7 linked regions of the Homo sapiens genome follow. The protein of the gene in region 2 purifies or fractionates together with the protein of the main gene of each other region. This does not show direct contact. Each region holds a gene or a part of one and is shown on either strand. Other genes may lie near its edges. The genes, in order: CRCP, DNAAF10, WDR4, PPP3CB, ECD, RPAP2 and RPRD2.

Region 1 (3,500 bases), on a different chromosome or scaffold from region 2:
TGTCCCCACGCCCACCCTTCACCCTGCTCTTGCTTCCTCTCTTTCTGGGTGAGGGGAGCATGTGTGCGCTGTCCCATCAGCTCCCTTCCTTGCTCATCTCCTGGCCTGGCCTCCCACGCCGGAAACCTGCAAGCCATTCTCTTCCTTTCATCTCACAGTCAGGGAGTCCCCAAGTTCTGTTGCTTCTGTCTTCGTTCTTGCTTCTCTCCCCCGTGTACTGCGTTGATTTCTGCCATTATTTCTTCACGCGGCTCTTGCGGTTATCCTCTCCCCATTCTCCCTGGCTCCCCAAGTCCATCTCCCACATCACCGTCAGAGATCACATCTAAAACCATGAATGTGATCCCATTTCCCTGCATAAACCGTTTATTTAGTACAGCCTCATCACTTGTGAAGTCCGCTTTGTACTGAGAGCGTAGGCTTTGGAATAGGAGGAGGCAGCCAGAGTAGAGGGGCCTACGATGGGATAAGGGGCCCGGGAAATGATCCAGGGAGATACCCGGGCCACCACTGGGCACGCTGTGGCCGCTGCCTTCTTATTACAGGGCAGAGAGCATCGGTACCTGACAAGTGTTAAGCAGGCCGTCTAATTGCCAGTTTAAAAAAAAAAAAGAAGAAGAAACTTTAGAGAATTAACAAAATGAGAATAAAGCAGTTTCCAAAGTCAGTTTTAGAAATACTTAGCTCTTTGTCAAATTTCCTTTAGAAAAGTATGGAAGAAAATGGTCAAAAATACGATTTTTAGAGTTGCTAATGGAAAAACTTTTTAAAAGGCCACAGGGTATTTAATTTTTTACTAAATTGTTCATTGTCTTCCTAGGGTTGTTTTTGCCCTTCAGAATGTACCCAAAATTAAATTAGAACAGTTCCTTTCATGAAGGGTGCCTTTCTCTGGGAACCCGCCTGTAGGCTAAATAGAAACCCCTTTCTCATGTGTCCTGATTATTTTCATGCTTTACACTGTATTGGAGTTTCAACCTAGAGCTTAGAGGAGAGAAAAAACAAACAGAACAGCAAGAAACGAATCCCTGTCCCTCTGGGTTAAAGATCATATGTCATGTCTCCTCCAGCTTTAATCAGCAACATATGTTACTCATGGCTTAATGACAGGCAGAGAGAAGAGATGAGGATTAGTGTGACCTCAGCCAGAGCCTGTGGAAAGTGGTATCATTACTTGGGGGAAGATTTGCTGCTATTGAGAGTGCCTGGGGTGGGCCGGGCGCGGTGGCTCATGCCTGTAATGCCAGCACTTTGAGAGGCCAAGGTGGGCAGATCACCTGAGGTCAGGAGTTCAAGACCAGCCTGGCTAAAGTGGTAAAACCCCATCTCTACTAAAAGTACAGAAATTAGCTGGGCATGATGGTGCACACCTGTAATCCCAGCTACTTGGGAGGCTGAGGCAGAATCACTTGAACCCGGGAGGCCAAGGTTGCAGTGAGCCAGGATTGCACCACTGCACTCCAGCCTGGGTGACAGAGTGAGACTCCATCTTGGGAAAAAAAAAAAAAAAGAGTGCATGGGGTGTGCCAGACACGGTCTCAGTCCTTGGTCCTGGTGCCTGTGATTGTCTGTCACTTCGAATGCCCGCCCCATAGTCTTGGAAGGGGGCAAGTGTCCTCTCCATTTTAGCCCAGAGGGCTGGTGAGTGGCTGATTGGGACCTTCTGATTCAGAAGCTTTACTTTGCTCCTCCAAGCCAGGTACTTGTGCTTGATGAGAAGAAAGATGTGTGTGGCATCCCCTGAGATGGTTTCCTTCTCGTTTCTACAAAGTAGGTAGGCCTTGGTAGAAACTGCTGTTTCTCAGTAGTTGGACCATTTTATAGCCAGATTCTTCCCACTCTGGAATTTGGCTACAAAAGGTAGCAAATTGTTTACCAAGGTTTGTAGCAGTATCGCTTCTCACCAGAGTGAATAAGAAATGAAAGCTGTGGCCGAACATGGTGGCTTGCGCCTGTGATCCCAGCACTTTGGGAGGCCAAGGTGGGAGGATTGCTTGAGGCCAGGAATTCAAAACCAGCCTGGGCAACATAGTAAGACCCCATCTCTACAAAAAATGAAAAAAATTAGCCAGGTATGGTGGCGCACACCTGTGGTCCCAGCTACTCAGGAGACTAAGGTGAGAGGATTGTTTGAGCCCAGAAGTTCAAGGCTGCAGTGAGCTATGATAGTGCCACTGTACTCCAGCCTGTGTGACTGAGCAAGAACCTGTCTTTTAAAAAAAAAAAAGCAAATGGCTGGGCACGGTGGCTCACGCCTGTAATCCCAGTACTTTAAGAGACCGAGGTGGGTGGATCACCTGAGGTCAGGAGTTTGTGACCAGCTTGGCCAACATGGCGAAACCTCATCCCTACTAAAAATACAGAAATTAGCTGGGCATGGTGGCGGGCACCTGTAATCCCAGCTACTTGGGAGGCTGAGGCAGGAGAATCGCTTGAACCTGGGAGGCGGAAGTTGTAGTGAGCGAAGTGTAGTGAGCGTGACTGCACTCCAGCCTGGGCGACAAGAGCGAAACTCCTTCTCTAGAAAACAAAAGGAAATAAAAGGTTTCACTTACAGTGGCAAGCACAAAGGACTTGAGTGAGAAGTTCCCTATATTAACACTAGAGCCATTTTTTCTCCCTGGGTTCAGAAAACAGTCCCAGCATCCAACATTTATTAGCATTCACTTGGAAGCCAGGTGTCTTTTGGAGGCTGAAGCCTCACCTCTTCAGTTACGCCTGGGCTGTGATTTGCTGTGGCCCTCTGATGACTGCCTGCTGACTCAGAGGCTCGGTGAGGAAATGAGGTGGCCACCCAGCTTAGGACTTGTTGTGCCCGGTTGTGTATTGATTTGGAATGATTTGTGAGCCCTCCGGCCTGAGGTCAGTGAATCCTGTGACCTCACAGGCCACTGCCCTGAACAGCACTACCATCTAGGCCTGTTAGTGATTTCGTGATTATGAAGTCTTGACTCATATAGAGCGTTATTGCTTGTAAAACACTGTTACATGTGTTCTCCTTTTGTCCTCGCTGTAGGCGTTACTTTCATTTTACATTAGAGAAAGTTGAAATTTAGAAAGCCAGATTCAGTGAACTGTTCTGGATCAAATATTTAATAGTATACATTGTTGCTATCAGATCTTTGAATCATTTTGAGGAAAGTAGGACTTTAGGTTTGGCGACTTCAAGTTGCCATTTTTGGAGGTCGGCAACCCGGTTTGATGCTCCTGGGATTGAGATAATAAATGTATCATTTATGTTAACCCAGCTGTTGATACTTTGGATTTTTAAGTTTTATTTCCCCTTATGTTCTCAACTACCTGAAATGGTTGGTATCTGAGAACCTTGAGATGGTGCTTTGAACTTTACTTCTTTATTTGGACTGTTTCTCCTGTGTTGGAAAGAAAAGGTGAAAGGCCGGACACAGTGATTCATGTCTATAACCCCAGCACTTTGAGAGGGTGATGTGAGAGGATCACTTGAGCCCAGGAGTTCAAGACCAGCCTGGGCAACCCCATCT
Region 2 (3,500 bases):
CCTTCTCAGTGCTTGTAACTTAGGTCTTCCCTGGAATACTGCAAAGAGCTCTTGAACTCATATTCTCTGTACCACTCATCACTCCCGCTAAATACCACTAGTTCATTTTCCTAAAGCTCGGATTTCATCTCTTCCTTGCAAACACCATCAAAAACTTAGAACTATCTTCAGGCCGTCCTAACACCTCTGGCCATTGTCCTGAGCCATCTCTAAGGATATTCCTACTATTACTCTCTTCTACCGTTGGCCCTCCCTATCCATGGGTTCTGCATCTATAGGCAACCAACAATGGATCGAAAATATTTGGAAAAAAATTTGCATCTACACTAAAAACGTACAGACTTCTTGTGCTTGTCATTATTCCCTAAACAATACAACAATGACTGACACAGCATTTATATTATATTAGGTATTATAAGTAATCTAGAGATGATTTAAAGTATACGGGAGGATGTGTTAAACCATTCATGAGAACTCCGCCCCCATTAATCACCTCCCACCAGGCCCCACCTCCAACACTGGGGATTACAATTGGACATGAGATTTGGTGGGGACATAGATCCAAACCATATCAAAGGGCAAATGTCAATTAGTCTTCCAAAGTCAATATTCATTTTAAGTAAATTAATGAAGGAATACAGTTATCAAAATTTATAAGAAATAACTTTGTAATGGCAAACTATTTTCTAGAAAATAAACATACTCCGTATATAGCGTAATGTATGATTTGTTAGGTAACTGTTTGCATTTGAGGCTTGGTTTATCCCCATTAATGGTGTCTGACTTTAAATTAGGTCAATATTATCTAGTTAAACAGGAACACATAATAATAAGCACAATTCTCAGCACTTTACATGTAATTAACTCATTGACTCTTCATGACAACACAACTAAGTAAATTCTATTATTAATTCCATTTTATAAATGAAACATCCAAGGAACAGATAACTTTGGTAACTTGCTCCAGGCCACATGGCCAATAAGTAGCAGGTGAGAATTCAAACTCAGGCCCCAGAGGCTGACATTAACCACCACGTGTATTTGCCTCAGTAAACTATTAGAATAATCCACAAAACAGACCATAAAGAGACTACTGTGAAATTTCTTGCAGCATCGTGCTTTTTACCATCTGATAATTCAAATGCAAGAATTCTTCAATAATTTACCAAATGCCACAGTCCAACAGTCTCTCTTGTTTTCTCCTTGTACAGGTTCCATATTAGCAACAGGATCATCTTTTTGCCTTGGGTCCCACACCTTCACAGTTCCTGCCATGCATAAAAGTGAGTTGGCAAAAATTCAAAAGTAAATGATTATGTTTCTTTTCTACATTCTTCTTCTATGGCTTCCTGTGTACATGGCAATATGACAGATGTTATGACATCTGAAAATATCCACATTGTTCTGACTTCTAATTGGGTAAGTTGTATTTAATATCAGAGATATCACCCATATGTAACTATCTGACTTGGTTTCCAAATTAATAGACACACAGAAAAGCCAACAAGTGTTCCTAAGTTATCTACGAGTGATGACTGACAAGGCAAATGTGAATGTTACGTAATTCAAATCATGAGCCTAAAATGAATGTGTTATTTTTTAGGGAAAATACCAGTGTTGTTTTAATTTTTACTTTTTTCCTTATTACCCATTTTAACCATTGGCATGAATACACTCTAATTTTGAATTAATGGTTTCTTATGTGAGTTCTAGAATACTATTTCTTTTTCTTTCTTTCTTTCTTTTGTTTTGAGATGGAGTCTCACTCTGTCGCCCAGGAATGCAATGGCGTGATCTTGGCTCACTGCAACCTCCGCCTCCTGGGTTTAAGCGATTCTCCGTCCTCAGCCTCCCAAGTAGCTGGGACTACAGGCATGCACCACCACGCCCAGCTAAATTTTGTACTTTTTTAGTAGAAATGGGGTATTGCCATGTTGGCCAGGCTGGTCTCAAACTCCTGACCTCAGGTGATCCACCTGCCTGGGCTTCCCAAAGTGCTGGGATTACCGGCGTGAGCCACTGTGCCTGGCCTAGAATACTATTTCATATACAGTTAAGTTTAATTTTCCTGTGGCAATAGTGAAGAGGAAAATGTTAAATAAAATTAACAAATTCTCAATTTAATTTCAACCCCCTTGTTTTAATTCATGTTATGGGACTACTTACTAAAATAGTGTCACTACCTACAAAAAATGCAAATGCATGTAATAAAATGGCTAAAAGGCAAGTACCTGAGAATAAGAAAAGGGCAAAAAAAAAAAAATCCTTAAAAGGAAAACAACTCAGGAAAGGTGGAGGTACAACATTAGATTTATCTCCAGGGATAAAATAAAGTTGATCATTAAAAGGCTGCTTTACTTTAATATTTATTTATTTAGAGACAGGGTCTTGCTCTGTCACCCAGGATGGAGTGCAGTCGTGCGATCATGGTTCACTGTAGCCTTGACCTCCTGGGTCCAAGTGATCCTCCTACCTCAGCCTCCCAAGTAGCTGGGACTATACCACCATGCCTGGCTAATTTTTAGTTTTTGTAAAGATGGGGTCTCCCTATGTTGCCCAAGCTGGTTTCAAGTGATCTTCCCACCTCAGCCTCCCAAGTGCTGGGATTACAGAGATGAGCCACTGCACCCACCAAAAGCCTGTTTTAAAAAGAAAAAAAAAATCCCAGATATAGAGATAAGAGATTATCTTTCTCTATAGGATTCATACAAATTGATAAGATCTCAGCCCACTTCAACCTCCCACTGCCAGGTTCAAGCAAAACTTGTGTCTCAGCCTCCTGAGTAGCTGTGATTACAGGTGTGTGCCACCACACCTGGCTAATTTTTGTATTTTAGAAGAGACAGGGTTTCGCTATGTTGCCCAGGCTGGTCTCAAACTCCTGGTCTCAAGTTATCCGCCCGCCTCAGCCCCCAAAGTTGTGGGATTATAGGCGTGACTGTACCTGGCCCAATAAATTTTTTAAAAAATCATAAAATATATTTATTCCAAAAGAGTTACACATATGACAATACTCATTTACTCATTATTTTTAAGCCACTCTCATAAGACAACAAATAAAAAAAGCAAACCAAAGGCTTATAAGGGAATGGTTAAGTACGGCCATATGATGGAATATTATATAGTCATTAAAATGATAACTGTGGAAACAGCAACATTTGCATATGACAAAACATTAAATAAAAAAAGTTTCTAAGATACAAATTCATATTCACACTTATAACTATGCAAAATTATATATAAGACCTAAAAGGAAAAGAAAAATCTAATGGTTGTGGTAGTGTGGTAGACTGAATGTTATTTTTCCCTCTATACTCAATATTGCTTTTATGATTAAAAAAAATAAGTGATTTCTAAAACACAGCTGCTCTTGAGTACCCACTAGAAAATTATATCTCACTTTTCCTTTAAAGCAATTTCCTCATGGTCTTGAGCGGCCATTAAACAACTAGCCAAATCAATTATAATAGGTACCAAATTTCTCATGTACCCCTCGTGAA
Region 3 (3,961 bases), on a different chromosome or scaffold from region 2:
GTCATAGATGAAGAGGCTGTCATCATCACTAAAGAGAAATAACAATAATTTTAAAAGGAGTTATCATTAGAGAGAAATAACAAATTTTTTTTTTTTGAGACGGAGTTTCGCTCTCGTTGTCCAGGCTCCAGTACAATGGCACGATCTTGGCTCACCGCAACCTCCGCCTCCCAGGTTCAAACGATTCTCCTGCCTCAGCCTCCCCAGTAGCTGAGATTACAGGCATGCACCAGCACTCCCAGCTAATTTTTACTTTTTGTAGAAACGGGGTTTCTCCATGTTGATCAGGGTGATCTCAAATCCCCAACCTCAGGTGATCCACCAACCTCAGCCTCCCAAAGTGCTCACAGGTGTGAGCCACTGCGCCTGGCCCATGTGAGCCACTGCGCCTGGCCCTAATTTTTTTTTTTTTTTTTTTTTTTGAGTTGGAGTCTCGCTCTATCACTCAGGCTGGAGTGCAAGGGCATGATCTCAGGTCACTGCAACCTCCCCCTCCTGGATTCAAGCAATTCTCCCGCCTCAGCCTTCCCGGTAGCTGGAATTACAGGTATCTGCCACCACGCCTGGCTAATTTTTGTAGTTTTGGTAGAGACGGGGTTTCGCCATGTTGGCCAGGCTGGTCTCAAGCTCCTGACCTCAGATGATCTGCCCGCCTCAGCCTCCCAAAGTGCTGAGATTATAGGCAGAGCCACTGCGCCCAGCCTAACAATGATTTTTAAAAGAGCACTTTGTTAAAAAAAAAAAAAAAAAGTTGATTTTTTTTCTCTGTGGAACAAAAAATATTTGCACACTCATTAAATTAAAAGTTGTATACTTGACAAGAAAACTGTCTAGATACAATATTTCAGGGAACAGTTAACAAACTTTATTTGCTTAATCTCTTATTGGAGTACGTCATACTGCATAGTTCTGTGGGAAAAAAAAGTTCAGTAAAACAAATGAGGGATAAATACTCAACAGGAATTAATATGCTATTCTTTTAGGCACCACAAAATCTATGCGACATGGTTATAAGAAATTACGGGCCGGGCGCGGTGGTTCACGCCTGTAATCCCAGCACTTTGGGAGGCCGAGATGGGCGGATCACGAGGTCAGGAGATCGAGACCAGCCTGGCTAACACAGTGAAACCCCCATCTCCACTAAAAATATAAAAAATTAGCCAGGCATGGTGGCAGGCGCCTGCAGTCCCAACTACTCGGGAGGCTGAGGCAGGAGAATGGCGTGAACCCGGGAGGCGGAGCTTGCAGTGAGCCAAGATCGCGCCACTGCACTCCAGCCTGGGCGACAAAGCGAGACTCCTCAAAAAAAAAAAAAAAGAAAAAAAAGAAATTATGTTCTGATACTGTTGAGCGTTCAGTGGGATTCTGTATACAAATTTCAAAGAGCCATTACTATTTAGAAACATATCTCACCTACCTGAAAGTGTTCCCATGACCCCAGGCACTTACCAACATAAGAATCACCCATTTTCCATACTGAACCTAAACTTCGGTTTATCCCATCCTCACCCCCTGGCACGTATCTTGTACATATTTATAGCCTTTAAAGCGAGTGCACCAAAAAACTTTCCATATGGAACCGTGGACTTGTCTTCCAAGTCAGAAACTCCACCAGCCACTAGAATTTCCTCAAAATGCAAAGACTGAAGGTAAGCAAATCATGTCTAATATATCCACAGCTCACTCTGGCAGATATTAGACCGTGAGTCTCTAAAACAAAATCATCTGGGATATGTGACGGGTTTCTGAGTACAATTTTTGTGAGACCTAACTTAACATCGAATTGGCTTTCTAAAACCAAACGAACAAAAAATATACAGTATATCTGACAGACACGTCGTCCGTTTCAAATATGAAATCACAAATAACCTGGGAAAGGAAACGAGGGGCTGAAACTGACAGCACTACTAATTGCTCCGAGAGTCCTGAGTTAGGACTGTTCCATCAACAAACATTTACTAAGTTAAAAATCCCCTGCGTCGTCCTAGCACTGGCGATACACTAAGGAAGGAGAATAAAATTACGGAAAGCAAAACCCGAGCCGTGCGAAGGGCCACTAGGGAGGTGCGCACTGCGAGCTCCACGTGCACCCTTGGGTTGGGTAAGTGTCGGAGATGACTTGGAGCCCTAAGGAGCAATTAAGGCCAGGTGAGTGGATGCAGGCCGGGAAGAGGGAACAGACAACCCTGCAAAAAGAGGGAGCGCGCTTGGAGGTCAGTGAGCTCGCAGTGAGTAAGCCCCTCCCTTCTCACCAGGGAGACCCGAGACCCGCTTCTTCCCAGTTCTGCAGAGCGTGTTCGGCCGGGCCTTGCTGACTGGTCAGCGTCGCCCCACGTGCTCTACCTACCCGGTCCCCGCCGGCGCCGCGGAGACCGGAAGCGACCCGGCGGCGCTAACCGGGCAAGAACACCGCAGACCAGCCATCTAGTGCAAGGAGCGCGCCGGAGCCGGGGAGCGGACGCCGAGAGCGGACGGCGAAAGCGGACCCTCCAGGCGCAGAGACGCGGCCAGGCCGAGACTGCGGCGGAGGACTCGTGGGCTGGAGCGGAGTTCCCCGGGGTCACCCCAGAGTGGGTGCGACCAGGCGGTGCGGGAGAAGCGGGGTCGCCAGGACCCGACGCGCGCCCGCAGCCTGGTCTCCCTGTTCCAAGACCAAGGCCCCCTCACCTGCTTGCTATGGAGGTGGCCAGGAATCGGCTGCCGCCCCGCACCACCAACGTCTGCCCGCACAACGCCAGTCCCACAGAGCCCGCCATGTACCCGCCCGCCTCACCGCCATACACATGTGCCAGCCCAGAGCCTCTTCCTGTCCGCACCGGTCGGTGACGCCAGGCGCAGACGCCGAGAGATGACGTATACCCCACGTACCGCGCATGCTCAAGGACGAGCCTGCCTTGAGCATGCGTGAAAGGTGCTGTGACCGCCCTCCGGGTTGTGGCTGGTGGCCTTCGGTGTTTCGGGTTTGGCAGTTCACTCACCAAGGTGATCTGATGGAGTGCACTTCGCACGATTCCAAGTACTTGCCTAATGTTCATCCTTTCCTCTAGACGGGGTAGGGCTGGTTCTGGATCTTTTTCCGCGGTAGCTGGAGAGACGTAGGACCTGATGATGGCTACTAGATGCCTGGTAAATGATCCTTCAAGAAGTGAATGAACCGGGGGCCGTGGCTCACATGAAGTCAGCAGTTCGAGAGCAGCCTGACCAATATGGTGAAACCCCGTTTCTACTAAAAGTACAAAAATTTGTTGGGCGTGGTGGCGTGCGACTGTAGCCCCAACTACTTGGGAGGCTGAGACAGAAGAATTGCCTGAACCCGGGAGGCGGAGGTTGCAGTGAGTCGAGATCGCCCCCGCTGCACTCCAGCCAGGGCGACAGAGCGAGACTCTCTCTCAAAAAAAAAAAAAATGTCCAAGATGTGGTCATGGGTGAGGGTGTCTCGGGTGGCGTCAAGTCTGAGGTCGCTAGAAGTAAGCCTACTGAATCTTTGCACTTAGACAAGCCACAGATGCCTTAAAATCTCCGAACTGTAGTGATATTTTCAACCCAAACTATGGTTAGTTTCCAGTGTTCATCCCAAGATCCCCAAAAGCCTCTTACAATCCCAGCATCAGGCACAAAATCTAGGATCTCACGGTCTGTTTTAGATTGGCTTGTCCGGTGCAGCTCCTCTTGATCCAGAGACTTACAAACTAAAAAGATTAATTTTCTCTCCCGTGCACGCAATATATGATGGTGAGCCGGGACCAGATAACCACAATAAATACTTGCATGTGAAAATGAGAAGAGGAGGAGACACAGTAATCACTGGTCCAAAGCAATTCTGAAATCCTACTGGAAGATGTTTTCAGGCCCTACAAGAATAAGAAGTCTTAACCAGGCCCGAGTTCTGCTTCCTGGGAGTATCTCCCCAGGCTGTATCTCAGCACAGCTCTTGCCTCTGCCCTCTTGGGTGTCCCTCCTT
Region 4 (3,500 bases), on a different chromosome or scaffold from region 2:
GGCTCTGTTCTTTGTGGGGGACCTGAAAGGACTTCTCCTGTCTACCAGTAACTTCCTTTCTATTCTAGTACTGATGTTCCAAATACCTACAGATACTAACATCTATAGCCTTAAAAAATTCCATTTATACTGACAGAGTTTATCATGAACTCAAATTTGCCTCAGAAAAAGACTACTGAGCATCTTTTCAAACTCATCTACCAATTAAAGAGACATTAAGGAAGAGAAGTGAGGTCTTACAGGCATAAATTCTAATTATTTCATGATATAGACACATAGGTCATATTATAAATAAGAAATACATTATTGGTATAGTGTGTCACTGGTCCATTTAGAGAATTTCACCATAATTAGTCAAACATTTTATAGTCAAAGATTCTTTTTTTCGCTCATTTCTGGGTTTGAACTGTATAAAGAGCTCACACTGAGGACCAGGACTCAAGATAGCACACAACAATACTGGTTTACAATATTGTCCATTCCCCTTATTACTCAGAATATTTGTAAAAGTAATGCCCTGGTCTCTCCTATTTTGCTTCTTCTGCAATAAGGCCAATTAGAATAATTATTCCTGAAGTGATCTTTTAGCAATTAACATGATTTAGAAATAATTTTATCCAAAGCAATTATTAATGTAAAAGAAACTGATGAATCTAAGGTATTAAAGTGAACTAAGTTAGAAAATGTTGATCTTAACCAGACAGTAAAGTGAATTGGGGACCCAAAAGAATTAGGACGAACACTGAATAAAGGAAGAGTTAATTTTCCTTAACTGTTAAACTACATTACAAATCGGGCAGGACATGGAAGATCATGCCTATAACCCCAGCACTCTCGGATGGCTGAGGTGGAAGGATCCCTTGAGCGTTTGAGCCCAGCCTGGGCAACACATAGAGAGACCTCATCTCCCCCCAAAAAAAGTTTAAAAAATTAGCCGGGCATGGTGGTGTGCATATGTAATCCCAGCTACTCGGGAAGCTGAAGCAGGAAGATCACTTGAGCCCAGATTGCTAATTGCAACACTCTATCTGAAAGGCACTATTTCTCCTCTATTTGTTTTCAGTTATATAGGGCATCTTGTCATGGCCTTAATAAGTTTGAGCATAGTGCTATCTCAAACTGTGTTCCTCAGTACTATGCAAGATAAATGACCAAGAGGAATTTGGTATTACTAACATAGAATTGGCCACATATATTTCCCATATAGATCCTGGTGAGGGTAGCATTACAGTGCTAGCTCCCAATCAAATTTCCCAGAAAGAAAACATACATAAAATAAAGATGAACAGAAAATCCACCTCCAATAGAGTTGTGCAGTTTGTAAAAACACTCAAGAAACATCATGTAAATTAACTTTTAAAGTTCTTGAAACGACAATTTTTATTTTCTGACAAATAGGCACGAGGTCTTAGAATTAAAATTTTTTCCTTTTGCAATACCTAACTCTCAGTTATACACACTAACATCAGGGAACATTATCTACTAAAATTTAAAATGTAGGATAACTTTTTAAAAAATAATCACAAACATGCAGCTTTTGTATGACCTTTGTTATTTGTTTCAAAGTGGATTTATCTTATGCTAGGAAAATAATTTTGACCAAATGCCCAAACCACACTATCAAGAGCTAGCAAAACTAGAAGCTATCTAGTTTAAGGGGTCCCAAATTAGACCCCTTAAACTCAATTCCTTCCAGTAACTTAGTCCATGCTGAGAATAGAGAGTCCCTCCAGCAAAGCTGCTGTCTTTCAAACCTCCCCTGCAGTTGAGGGTGGTTTCAAAGTTGAAGGAATGAGCTTCAAGCCGTGTACAAATTAAGAATAAACAGAAGTCAACAAAGCATGTAATTAGCAGGGGCTAATCGTGAAATCTGAAAGCAAGGTTTGCTGCGGATACAATATAAAAGTAATGTTATATCCAAGGATAACTGAGAGATGACTATACTGTAGATTTATTTAAGTATGATACCCTTTTGGTTTTATTTTTCTTTTCTGAACAAAGAAGAGTATAATATTTTTGAAGCTATTAAAGTTCATCCTTTTCTATTAACATTTTTACTAGTTTTATCAAATGTTTAAGATCTTGTTTTAATGTACATTCATGAAATTCTTTTTAGTTCATTTTTCTAATGTTTACAATATAATAAGAAAAATGGAGGGCAAGGAATGTAAAGCAAATCAAAGCAGGTTGTTTTTTTTTTTTAAAGAAAATCAAAAAAAGAAACCTCATTCAGAATGAAAATTTATAATTTCAAAACACAGTGTACTTTTCAGATATACCAGTGGTGGTAGTGAACAATACAATGACATTTAAAATAGAACATGTATAGGCTACAAGTAAAAATTGTTTACAGGAAAAAAATTTTTTTTATTGAAAAGCAATCATTGGCCAGGCATAGTGGCTCATGCCTATAATCCCAGCACTTTGGGAGGCTGAGGTCAGAAGATTGCTTGAGCCCAGGAGTTTGAGACCAGCCTGGGCAATACAAAAATATAAAAAAATAAAAAATAAAAAAAATAAAAAAAATTAGCTGGCTGTGGTGGCATGTGCCTATGGTCTTAGCTACTTGGGTGGCTGAAATGGAGGACTGCTTGAGCCCAGGAGGTTGAGGCTGCACTGCACTCCAGCCTGGGTGACACAGCAAGAAACCAGACCCTGTCTGTCTCTCTCACACACACACATGTACACATGCACACAAAAAAAGAAAGACAGAGAGAGAGAGAGAAAGAGAGAGAGAGAGAGAGAAAGAAAGAAAGAAAGACAGAAAGAAAGAAAGAAAGAAAGAAAGAAAGAAAGAAAGAAAGAAAAAGAAAGAGAAGAGAAGAGAGAAAAGAAAAAAAAAGAGCACTTATTATGGAACCAAGTGAAATGAAATTGTGAAGTCAAATGTAAATTCATTCAAAACGTTAAAATTGCCTATTTTTTTCCCTCTAAAAAAGTCACTAATTACAACACCAAAAAGAAACCTAATTATGACTAAGGAAAACATCAGATCTGTTGCTATTTTAATAGACAATGACCCTTAGAGGGCTGTCAAAAGTGACTACAAGAAATTCAGGCTTTTCCACATCATGTATTTTTGCTTTCCAACCACAGGAAAAGAAATCTAGACTGAATTACTGTGTATGGTCACTAATACTCACATCACTCTCTTCTATTTAATCTGTAATGGGCTTTTAAAAAGTTAACCCAGTATTTACACAAATATTTACGCCAAAAAAAGTTTTTTAAGTATAAAATATTCAATGAGCCAGATTACAGGAATGCTTTACGTATAATTCTTTTTATTTTCATGCAAAATAAAGGCACACTTAATAACACCCTTTCAATTTTGACTTACAGGATTTAAATTCAACCCCTTATAACAATGACTTAATATCTAATGTTACATTCATGTTCAGAATGCACAAAGTGCAGCAACAAATGCAGCAAACCTCAAAACAAGGTGCTACAAAGCTGCTTCTACATTGCAAGACAGACAAGTGTCTGATGGAGTAATT
Region 5 (3,500 bases), on a different chromosome or scaffold from region 2:
TGGAATGTAGTGGTGCAATCACACTCACTGCAACCTCTACCTCCTGGGCTCAAGTGATTCTCCTGCCTCAGCCTCCCGAGTAGCTGGGACCACAGGCATGGGCCACCACACATGGCTAATTTTTGTATTTTTAGTAGAGATGGGGTTTCACCATGTTGGCCAGGCTCGTCTCGAACTTCTGACCTCATGTGATGCTTCCGCTTCGACTTCCCAAAGCGTTGGGATTACAGATGTGAGCCACCGCCCCAGGCCTACAATGTATTGTGTTCTTGAAACTTGCTAAGGCAGTAGATTTTAAATGTTCGCACCACACACAAAAAAATAAGTATGTGAAGTAATGTACGTTATGAGCTCAATTCAGCCATCCTACAATATATATGTATTTCAAGACAACATGTTATACATAATAAATATATAAAATTTTTATTTATCAATTTTAAAAATAGGCTGGGCGCAGTGGCTCACACCTGTAATCCCAGCACTTTGGGAGGCTGAGGCAGGTGGATCACTTGAGGTCAGGAGTTTGAGACCAGCCTGGCCAACATGGTGAAACCTTGTCTCTACAAAAAATACAAAAATTAGCCAGGTGTGGTGGTGCACGCCCATAGCCCCAGCTACTCAGGAGGATGAGGTAAGAGAATTGCTTGAGCCCGGGAGGCAGAGGTTGCAGTGAGCCGAGATTGTTCCACTGCAGTCCAGTCTGGGCAAGAGAGTGAGAGCCTGTCTCAAAAAAATAAAATAAAATAAAATAGAGCACAGTGGCATGTGCCTGTAGTACCAGCTGCTTGGGAGACTGAGGCAGGAGGATGGCTTGAGCCCAGGAGTTCAAGTCCCGCCTGGGCAAAATAGTAAGACCCCGTCTTTAAAAAACTAAATAAATAATAAATAAATTTAAAACATTTAAAAATTTTAAATAAATTTATTTAAAGATAAAAATAAAATGAGTTATCGCTTAGATTTACATCCTGAAATATTTAAGGATCAAATGACAGCTACAGATGAAATAATAATGACCATGAGTTGGTAATTGTTGAAGCTGGATAATGGGAACATGTGGGTTCATTCTTTCTACTTTAATGTATGTTTAAAATTTAAATAATAAGTTTTCAAAGGTTTTTTTCTCCCTTCTATTTTGTTCTGTTGGGAAAGAGGTTGAGTGGGTAAAAAAAGATCAGAATTTGGGTGCTGACTAGGAAAACTAGGACAAAATATAAGTGGGCGGAACGCCCTCTGCTGGCAATACGTGGTTAATTACAGAAAACCCAGGTCCCATTTTTAACGTAATGTTACCTACTTTGCTTCCTATACAATTGTGTTCACTGACTTCTCTTTAAATTGTTTCTGTGTATGATTTCTCAAAAAATATAGCTATGGTCTAGTACAGGAATACATATTTAAAAATACGTGAAATATGTGTGTATGTGTATGAATGGAATTTTATTTTTCAAAGATCCACAAGGAATTTAATGGTGATTACTTCTGGGAAGCAAGAGCAGTAGAAACCTTTGTATCTTTTGAATTTTGTTTACCACATGTATTTGTTTTTTCATAATTAGAACTTTAAAAAGAAAACCTAAAATAAGTAGGTTTTATTTGAAATCTTTTGGAAGTTGAACTCTTTGACAGTACTTTAATTTTTTTTTTTTTTTTTTTTGAGACAGTTTCACTCTTGTTGCCCAGGCTGGAGTGCAATGGCGCGATCTCGGCTCACCGCAACCTCCGCCTCCCAGGTTCAAGCAATTCTCCTGCCTCAGCCTCCCGAGTAGCTGTGATTACAGGCATGTACCACCATGCCTGGCTAATTTTGTATTTTTAGTAGAGACAGGGTTTCTCCATGTTGAGGCTGGTCTCGAACTCCTGACCTCAAATGATCCGCCTGCCTCGGCCTCCCAAAGTGCTGGGATTACAGGTGTGAGCCACCGCGCCTGGCCGTGTACTTTAATTCTTTCTCAAGAAAAGGAAGCCACAAGAGAAGAGAAAGAAAACACAGATATGGCTGGGCGCGGTGGCTTACGCCTGTATTCCCAGCACTTTGGGAGGCCAAGGTGGGTGGATCACCTGAGGTCAGGAGCTCCAGAGACTAGCCTAGCCAACATGGTGAACCCTTGTCTCTACTAAAAATACAAAATTAGCCAGGCGTGGTGGTGCACGCCTGTAATCCCAGCTACTTGGGAGGCTGAGGCAGGAGAATCGCTTGAACCCGGAAGGTGAAGATTGCAGTGAGCCAAGATCACACCACTGCACTCCAGCCTGGGTGACAAAGCAAGACTGTCTCAAAAAAAAAAAAAAAGAGCACAGATACTATTAAAATCTGTACAATTTCCAGCAGACTACAGGAGAAAAATAAATTACTAAATAGATAAAAATGTAGTCACTTTGTTTCAGTAATAGAATTCCTTTAGAATAATTAAAATAACTACAATACCTTGCTACTAACTCTGGAAATTCCTTTGTGATCTGCTTTATTACATAAACAATAAACCATTCATCCTCAATGTTATCCCCAAACTTTGTCACGCCAAACATATGAGCAGGAACACCTCCTAAAAACAAGAGAAAAGCAACCATGTAACCAGATAAATTTGTTACTGCAAATAAAATGCACATAATCATTCAACTGAATACACATTCATTGACTGATTGCTCTAAGTACTGGGGAGCAGGGGTTGCAATCCTGAAGAAGAAGCCTACTCCTGAGGAGCTCAGGGTAAAACAAGACAACCAAATGATCTCAAAACAAGATAATGAACTCTAGAACAGGAGTGTGCAGTAACGGCTATGTGAGTATAAAGGAGGGGATATCTGTGCTATGCTTGCCTGGAGGAATGACAAGAGGTGAGCTTTCCAGAAAAATGGAAAAGTATGTGCAAAGGCACAGAGGCATGATGTATAGAGTATGTATGTATAGAGTATTCTGGGAATACCAGGACGCTAGATTTGGATGGAGCAGAAGTTTTCAAACATGTGCACTATTCACAAACACATGGAAACTAAACAACAACACACTCTTGGAATAAATCACAGGGAAATTAGAAAATATCTTGGGACAAATGAAAATGAATGCACATCATACCAAAACTTAAGGAATTCAGTGAAAGCAGTGCTAAAAAGGAAGTTTGTAGTTGTGAAAGATCTCAAATCAACAACCTATACCTCAAAAAAAAAAAACAAAAACTAAACCCAAACCTAGCATAAGGAAGGAAATAATAAACATTACAGCAGAGAGAAATATAGAGACCAGAAAAAATAATAGAAAAACAAAACAGCTGAGTTGGGTTTTTTTTAAAAGATTGACAAACTATTAACTTGATTAACCAGGAATAAGAGCAAATACTCAAATAACTAAAATCGGAAATGAAAGAGGGGACAGTACAACTTATGTCATAGAAATAAGAAGGATAAGAGAATTCTATGAACAATGGTATACCAGTAAGTTGGATAACCTATAAGAAATTGACAAATTCCTAGAAACACAACCTGTCAAGACTGGATCATGAGAA
Region 6 (3,500 bases), on a different chromosome or scaffold from region 2:
TACTTTATATATATATTTATATATATATATATATTTGCAACAACAGGCAAATCCAAATAGTGCAGTAGGATAGCATTATCAAGTTTTTTAAAAAGTTTTGCTGTACTCCTGTAACAATTTTAAAATAATTGGGGGAAAAAGATGAAGGAAGAATACAGAAGGAGAACTATATCAAAAAATATATTATTAACAGATGTACTGAAATTATAGGCTTCTTCTGAAATTTATATATCAGAACCTAGAAATAAGGTTTTGTCTGGGGAATAAAAATTTCTACCTTGAAAGTTACAATGTATAAATACTATGGGGTACTTTACTTTTCTATTGTTTTCGGGTTTTATTTGCTATTTTTTATTTAGTTATTTTATTTCTCTTTCATTCTACAGTGGCCATTCTGGAGAAGAAGTACAGTTATGCAGTAAAGCCATTAAAACATCAGATATCGACAATCCTAGCCACTTTGAAAAGCAATATGAATCTAGTTCTTCTAGCACTCACAGTGATAGTAGCAGTGACAATGAGCAAGACTTTGTTTCCTCCATTCTACCAGGAAACAGACCAAATTCAACAAATATTAGACCACAGCTGCACCAAAAAAGCATAATGAAAAAGAAAGCTGGTCACAAAGCTAACTCCAAACACAAAGACAAAGAACAGACAGTAGTAGATGTCACTGAGCAGTTAGGCGATTGCAAATTAGATAGTCAGGAGAAAGATGCTACATGTGAACTTCCTTTACAGAAAGTAAATACTCAGAGTTCTTCAAATAGCACTTTGCCTGAAAGATTAAAAGCGTCAGAAAATTCTGAAAGTGAATACAGTAGGTCAGAAATAACTCTAGTAGGCATAAGTAAGAAAAGTGCAGAGCATTTTAAGAGAAAATTTGCCAAATCAAACCAAGTGTCTAGGTCAGTGTCTAGTTCAGTGCAGGTGTGTCCTGAAGTTGGAAAGAGAAACTTACTTAAAGTTTTGAAGGAGACTTTGATTGAGTGGAAGACAGAAGAAACATTGAGGTTTTTGTATGGCCAGAATTATGCTTCTGTGTGTCTGAAACCCGAAGCCTCTCTGGTTAAAGAAGAACTTGATGAAGATGACATAATCTCAGATCCAGATAGTCATTTCCCTGCCTGGAGGGAATCTCAGAACAGCTTGGATGAGTCTTTACCTTTTAGGGGCTCAGGTACAGCCATTAAACCACTGCCAAGTTACGAGAATTTGAAAAAAGAAACTGAAAAGTTAAATCTGAGGATCAGGGAGTTTTACAGAGGACGGTATGTTTTGGGTGAAGAAACCACCAAATCACAAGACTCAGAAGAGGTATGTCTTACAGACATTGAGTTTTTCCAGATCGTTAACATTTGGAAAACTCACCACAGCAAATCTTGGAGCAGGAAGGATATTGAAGAGTTAATTGTTAAATTTTCAAATAGTTTCTTTAGTCATTCTGCCTTTTGGTTTACAGTGCCATCTCCACTGTTGGCATTACTATTTTACAAATAAGTTGACGTTTACCCCTAGCAAATTTTCATCAGTGTGCAATATTTTTTTCTAATGTAAAAATAGCCTAAAATGGTGGGACAAAGTTTTCCCTAATTCTTCATACAATAAATGAAGCCTCTGAAGAGGCTTGCTTTTTCTTCTTCGGTATTCTTTCAGATTTTTACATGGGGTCTGTGTGTGTGTGTTTAATGGAAGTATATGCCATGGAATAGACTTGGTAGTTACATTGGAAAATATTTAGCAAGCATGTCCATTGAAAACATTACAGATCAAAATAGTTTGTAAAAGAGACTTATTGGGAAATAATGGACAAAGAGAATGGAAAGCACATTCAGATAGACCTAGATTTGAACATCTGTTGTGTCATTTACTAGCTGTATGAAAAATTAGTTTCTTGGTCTGTTTGCTCATCTGTAAATGGAACTATTAATAGCTTCTCTTGCTCAATTGTTATTTGTTTTAAAGATAATGTGTATAAAGCATTTATCACAGTACATGACATATAATTGGTACTCAGTAAATAGTACCCATATGTAGAGATTGAAAATGTGCCACTGAGATTTAGAGAGCATCTTTTAGTATTTCTACTACCCATCTTTGATTGATGTATACTCCCTGGAAAATGAAGTCATTTAACATGAAGAGGAATGGGTAATAACCTTGTTTTTACCACAAAACTTTGTTCTCAAATATTCCTAAGTAAATGTGGCTCTAAATTTAAAAGCACATTGGAGATTTGGAAAGAGGGTAGAAGTAGAAATGTAGTAAAAAATTTAGAAATATATTTCTATAGAGTGTTGCTTGGCCCAGCACCCTACTTCAAATCATTTCAAGTATCTTATTAGACATCATCCAAAACTTATATTAAGCTAGGAGAAACATTGATCTCTGTCACTGAGCTGCATAAACCTACCATAGAACATCACTTATTTTATCATTTTGTCCTTTTTAGCCTTAAAAAGGAAAAAATAATCCCTGAAATTTGACTTTTAAAAATTTATAACATTTTCCAAAAATGTTACATAACATGTTAAAACATTTCCATTGAAGTACAACACAAATAGTAATTATATGATTTCTTGAGTATTCACATATGAATGTCCTGATGTAATCACTACCCAAGCCAAGAAATAGGTCATTACAAGTAAACTAGAAGCCCCATATATATCCCCTCCTAATCAGCACCTCTTTCCAAAATTAATATTATATTAGCACAGATTAGTTCTGTCATTTTTTTTCCAGTATATATTCTTGGTGTCCAGTTTATTTCATGCAATATTATACTTTTGAGTCATTTGTGTTGTTGCATATAGCTGTAGTTCATTCTTTTATTGCTGTATAGTATTCCATTATATAAATATACCATTTATTTATGCTAATGGACATTTAGACTATTTCCAATTTGGGGCTATTATGAACAATATTCTTAGGAACTTTCTCGTATTTATCTCTCTGCTAATATGCGTATGTATTTCTGAAGTATCTAGGACTGGGAATGGTGGGTTATCGTATATGCATATATGCAACTATACTAGATAATGCCAAACAGTTTTCCAAAGTGGTTGTACCGGTTTACAGTTCCACTACTACTATATGGGAGTTTCCTTGATTCCATGTCCTCCCTGGTACTTGATATAGTTAGTTTTAGCCATTCTGGTAGTATTGGTTTATGATTATAATACATTACTGTGATGATGAATAAATTCAGCACTATTTTATTTGCTTATTGACCACTTGGATAATCTCTTAGGTCAGGTCTGCAGATCTCTCAGCCATGGATACCAGCACCTGCTCTGGTGGAGATGGCAGGGGGGTGAAATGGATTCTGTGAGGATCCTTGCTTTTGGTTGTTTAATGTACTATTTTTGTGCTGGTTAGCCTCCTGCCAGAAGGTGGCACTTTCAAGAGAGCATCAGTTGTGGTAGTATAGGGAGGATCAGGCTGTGGGTAGGGCCGTAGAACTCCCAAGAATATATGCCCTTTGTCTTCAGCTACCGGAG
Region 7 (2,460 bases), on a different chromosome or scaffold from region 2:
GTACTTGGGAAATAGACAATCACTGTACTTTGAGTGTTTATATCTTTATATCTAGGGACACTGAAAAGTAAATGTTGCTTTACTACAATTTTTTTTTAATTTAGTGTCTTACCCCAAGGCATACTCAACTGATAATCTCCAGCTAGATGAGTAAAACAGTATGTGTTTAGTTTTCCAGAGAATTCTGGCAAGTTTCATATTTTCTTCCAAGTTAGTATAGAACTAACTATAGGAAGTATGGGGTTGCTTTTTCCTCCAGTAGAATATTAAAGATGGGGGAGGGTGGGCAATGTAGTGACAGAAAATGATTCTCTCAGAATGAACTTTTCAGAGAAAGAGCAGCATAAACCAGGTGCACATCATGATTTGGGAGTTTTTGCGTAATTTATTCTGTTATTTATTTGGGCTCGCCATGTGTTCTGGGGTTAGGATGCTGCAGGTCATTCATCTTCTTAATGCCTGTCTGGTCTTAAGCCAACTGTTCTTTCTTTCCTCGACCCTCTCTGCCCTGTAGCTCTCCCCACAAAAATGCATGATACCATGACCTTACGTGTGGGATGGGGTATGTAGTGTAGCAAAGAAAAGAAAGTATAGTTATATTGAGTCCTAAGACATTTGTTAGGGAAAAGCATAAGAGAAAATGGGGTGGGAGGTGGGGAAATGATATTTGACTTTCAAAATTGAAATAGGTTTTTTTTTTGCAGAAATTAAATGGGATGTTTTTCATTCTAGAATAAAAGAATGTGAATTCTCTTTGCTGCTCTTGTTTAAGCTAAAAGTAGTGTTTACTTGATAAGGCTCTCTGACCATTTAATTTTTATCAGAAAATGTGGGGATGTCAGGAAAGTGGCTTCCTGAACGTTGGGGCGGGATAATTGTCCTCAAAAGTATGATGGTTAATACATGAAAGGAAGACTTTGTTGGACAGTTTCGAAGGTGGGCTTTTAAGGAGTTGGGTTTTTGTGGGGTACTTTTTTGTTTTTTAAGCCACAAAATCCTCAATATGTTTGTTTTAGGATGGAAGTGAGGATTTGTATGAGACTGTCAGCTATTAATTTTAAGGAAATCTTAAAATTTACATTTACATCAGTAAATGAAGATGACAGTGTGTATATATGTGATAAATAGTGAAACAGAAAAGACAGTTCTGGTATTCATAACGTGAAAGAAAGGGGTTTTATTCTTTCTGTGTCTGTGATTTAAAACTCCGTGACCATGCTCTGACTTTTGTATTTCAACCTGAGTTTAAACAAATAAACAAGATATTTTTTAAAGAAAGCATAACATAGTGTGTCTTAGCAAGGACATGATTCATATGGAAGCAGAATGTGAGAAGTTGTAAGGTCCTTGGTACTCACTGTAAAATCACAGACAGAGAATTGGTAGGGGTTGTGAATACACTAGTACCACTTAAAGTTCAGTGATACAGTTCAGAAATAGGGTCCTTAAGTATTTTGAAAGAGTTTACTCTTCAGTCAGCTTAGATGAGAGCTCTCTCCCTGCTCCCCTCTACCCTCTCAAAAGTTGAGAGTAAATAGAATTTGGTTTGATTCCAGGGAGGGGAAAATAAGCAGAGAATAGGACTTTTATACTTTCCAATACCAGGAATAAAATGTTTGTGATATATATGGGTCCAGCAAACCTATCGAGATAATGTGAATACGATAAACTTCCTAATGGCAGGATATTCACTCTCAATCCTGAAGTTACCGGTTCCTGCAGAATTGAGCTTCAGCTGTTACTGTTTTGAAGCCGCTGTAAATTACTGCTTTCCCCAGTTCCCCCACTATTTTTTTTAAGTGGGCGGGGGCGCCTGTTAAGATCTAAAATAGATATGTTGGATTGATATTCTCACGTGTTCGGTGTGGAAAACAAAACAAGTACATGCTTTAGAAGCAACAACAATGAAATCCTTTTGAAATGTGTGTTAATATCGTTTAATAAAATAACTAGTTTGAAAGGTTTGACATTTTTCTTTGAGACGGGCTTGGACCAGGGGCCCCTGGCTTCCTAGTGAGTGCAAATAGGAGGGAACTTCTCAGGAGCTGAAACCGCTGCTTTGTGGAGCAGGCCTGTGGTTGGAAAACCTAAGTTTTCTCTAGCAAAGACCCAGCCTGACTGTCCAGGGCCGAAGGTGAAACCAACTAGAGAATGCAGAAGGAAAAGCCTGGATATATCTCAGAAGATATGGTTGTATTGGCTTTTGGTCCAAGGGTATGGGGGTGGGAGTAGTGGTGTGTGCGCCCACACATTTCTCAGGCACACACAGAGATACCACAGACCACCCACTTCGTAACCACTTGCACTTTACTCTCTTCCAGACGTTCCTTTTTTTTTTAATCCCTTTGTCCCCATTATTTTGTTTTCCAGTTTAATAAAGTATGGTTTCCTTTGTTGTGTGGTTGACTTTTCCCCTCCTGTTGATCTTTTCCAGATGTCCCCTTTGACTTCTGCACTTAA

The links.
Region 1: the proteins of DNAAF10 (region 2) and CRCP purify together in Homo sapiens (affinity purification with mass spectrometry, with the first as the bait; one large-scale study listed by BioGRID). This does not show direct contact.
Region 3: the proteins of DNAAF10 (region 2) and WDR4 fractionate together in Homo sapiens (co-fractionation; one large-scale study listed by BioGRID). This does not show direct contact.
Region 4: the proteins of DNAAF10 (region 2) and PPP3CB fractionate together in Homo sapiens (co-fractionation; one large-scale study listed by BioGRID). This does not show direct contact.
Region 5: the proteins of DNAAF10 (region 2) and ECD purify together in Homo sapiens (affinity purification with mass spectrometry, with the first as the bait; one large-scale study listed by BioGRID). This does not show direct contact.
Region 6: the proteins of DNAAF10 (region 2) and RPAP2 purify together in Homo sapiens (affinity purification with mass spectrometry, with the first as the bait; 2 studies listed by BioGRID). This does not show direct contact.
Region 7: the proteins of DNAAF10 (region 2) and RPRD2 purify together in Homo sapiens (affinity purification with mass spectrometry, with the first as the bait; one large-scale study listed by BioGRID). This does not show direct contact.

What each region holds. Positions count from the first base shown.
Region 1 is NC_000007.14:66,145,847-66,149,346, forward strand, and holds part of CRCP (DNA-directed RNA polymerase III subunit RPC9), read left to right. Parts: intron 1-3,500. UniProt on the Homo sapiens protein: DNA-dependent RNA polymerase catalyzes the transcription of DNA into RNA using the four ribonucleoside triphosphates as substrates.
Region 2 is NC_000002.12:68,140,528-68,144,027, forward strand, and holds part of DNAAF10 (dynein axonemal assembly factor 10), read right to left. Parts: intron 1,269-3,500; coding exon 1,167-1,268; intron 1-1,166. UniProt on the Homo sapiens protein: Key assembly factor specifically required for the stability of axonemal dynein heavy chains in cytoplasm.
Region 3 is NC_000021.9:42,876,740-42,880,700, forward strand, and holds the start of WDR4 (tRNA (guanine-N(7)-)-methyltransferase non-catalytic subunit WDR4), read right to left. Parts: upstream 2,801-3,961; 5' UTR 2,757-2,800; coding exon 2,668-2,756; exon of another isoform or gene 2,425-2,667; coding exon of another isoform or gene 2,348-2,424; exon of another isoform or gene 2,253-2,347; intron 29-2,252; coding exon 1-28. UniProt on the Homo sapiens protein: Non-catalytic component of the METTL1-WDR4 methyltransferase complex required for the formation of N(7)-methylguanine in a subset of RNA species, such as tRNAs, mRNAs and microRNAs (miRNAs).
Region 4 is NC_000010.11:73,440,525-73,444,024, forward strand, and holds part of PPP3CB (serine/threonine-protein phosphatase 2B catalytic subunit beta isoform), read right to left. Parts: exon of another isoform or gene 3,265-3,500; intron 1-3,264. UniProt on the Homo sapiens protein: Calcium-dependent, calmodulin-stimulated protein phosphatase which plays an essential role in the transduction of intracellular Ca(2+)-mediated signals.
Region 5 is NC_000010.11:73,158,009-73,161,508, forward strand, and holds part of ECD (protein ecdysoneless homolog), read right to left. Parts: intron 2,544-3,500; coding exon 2,426-2,543; intron 1-2,425. UniProt on the Homo sapiens protein: Regulator of p53/TP53 stability and function. Inhibits MDM2-mediated degradation of p53/TP53 possibly by cooperating in part with TXNIP. May be involved transcriptional regulation. In vitro has intrinsic transactivation activity enhanced by EP300.
Region 6 is NC_000001.11:92,323,059-92,326,558, forward strand, and holds part of RPAP2 (putative RNA polymerase II subunit B1 CTD phosphatase RPAP2), read left to right. Parts: intron 1-386; coding exon 387-1,317; intron 1,318-3,500.
Region 7 is NC_000001.11:150,474,607-150,477,066, forward strand, and holds the end of RPRD2 (regulation of nuclear pre-mRNA domain-containing protein 2), read left to right. Parts: 3' UTR 1-1,960; downstream 1,961-2,460.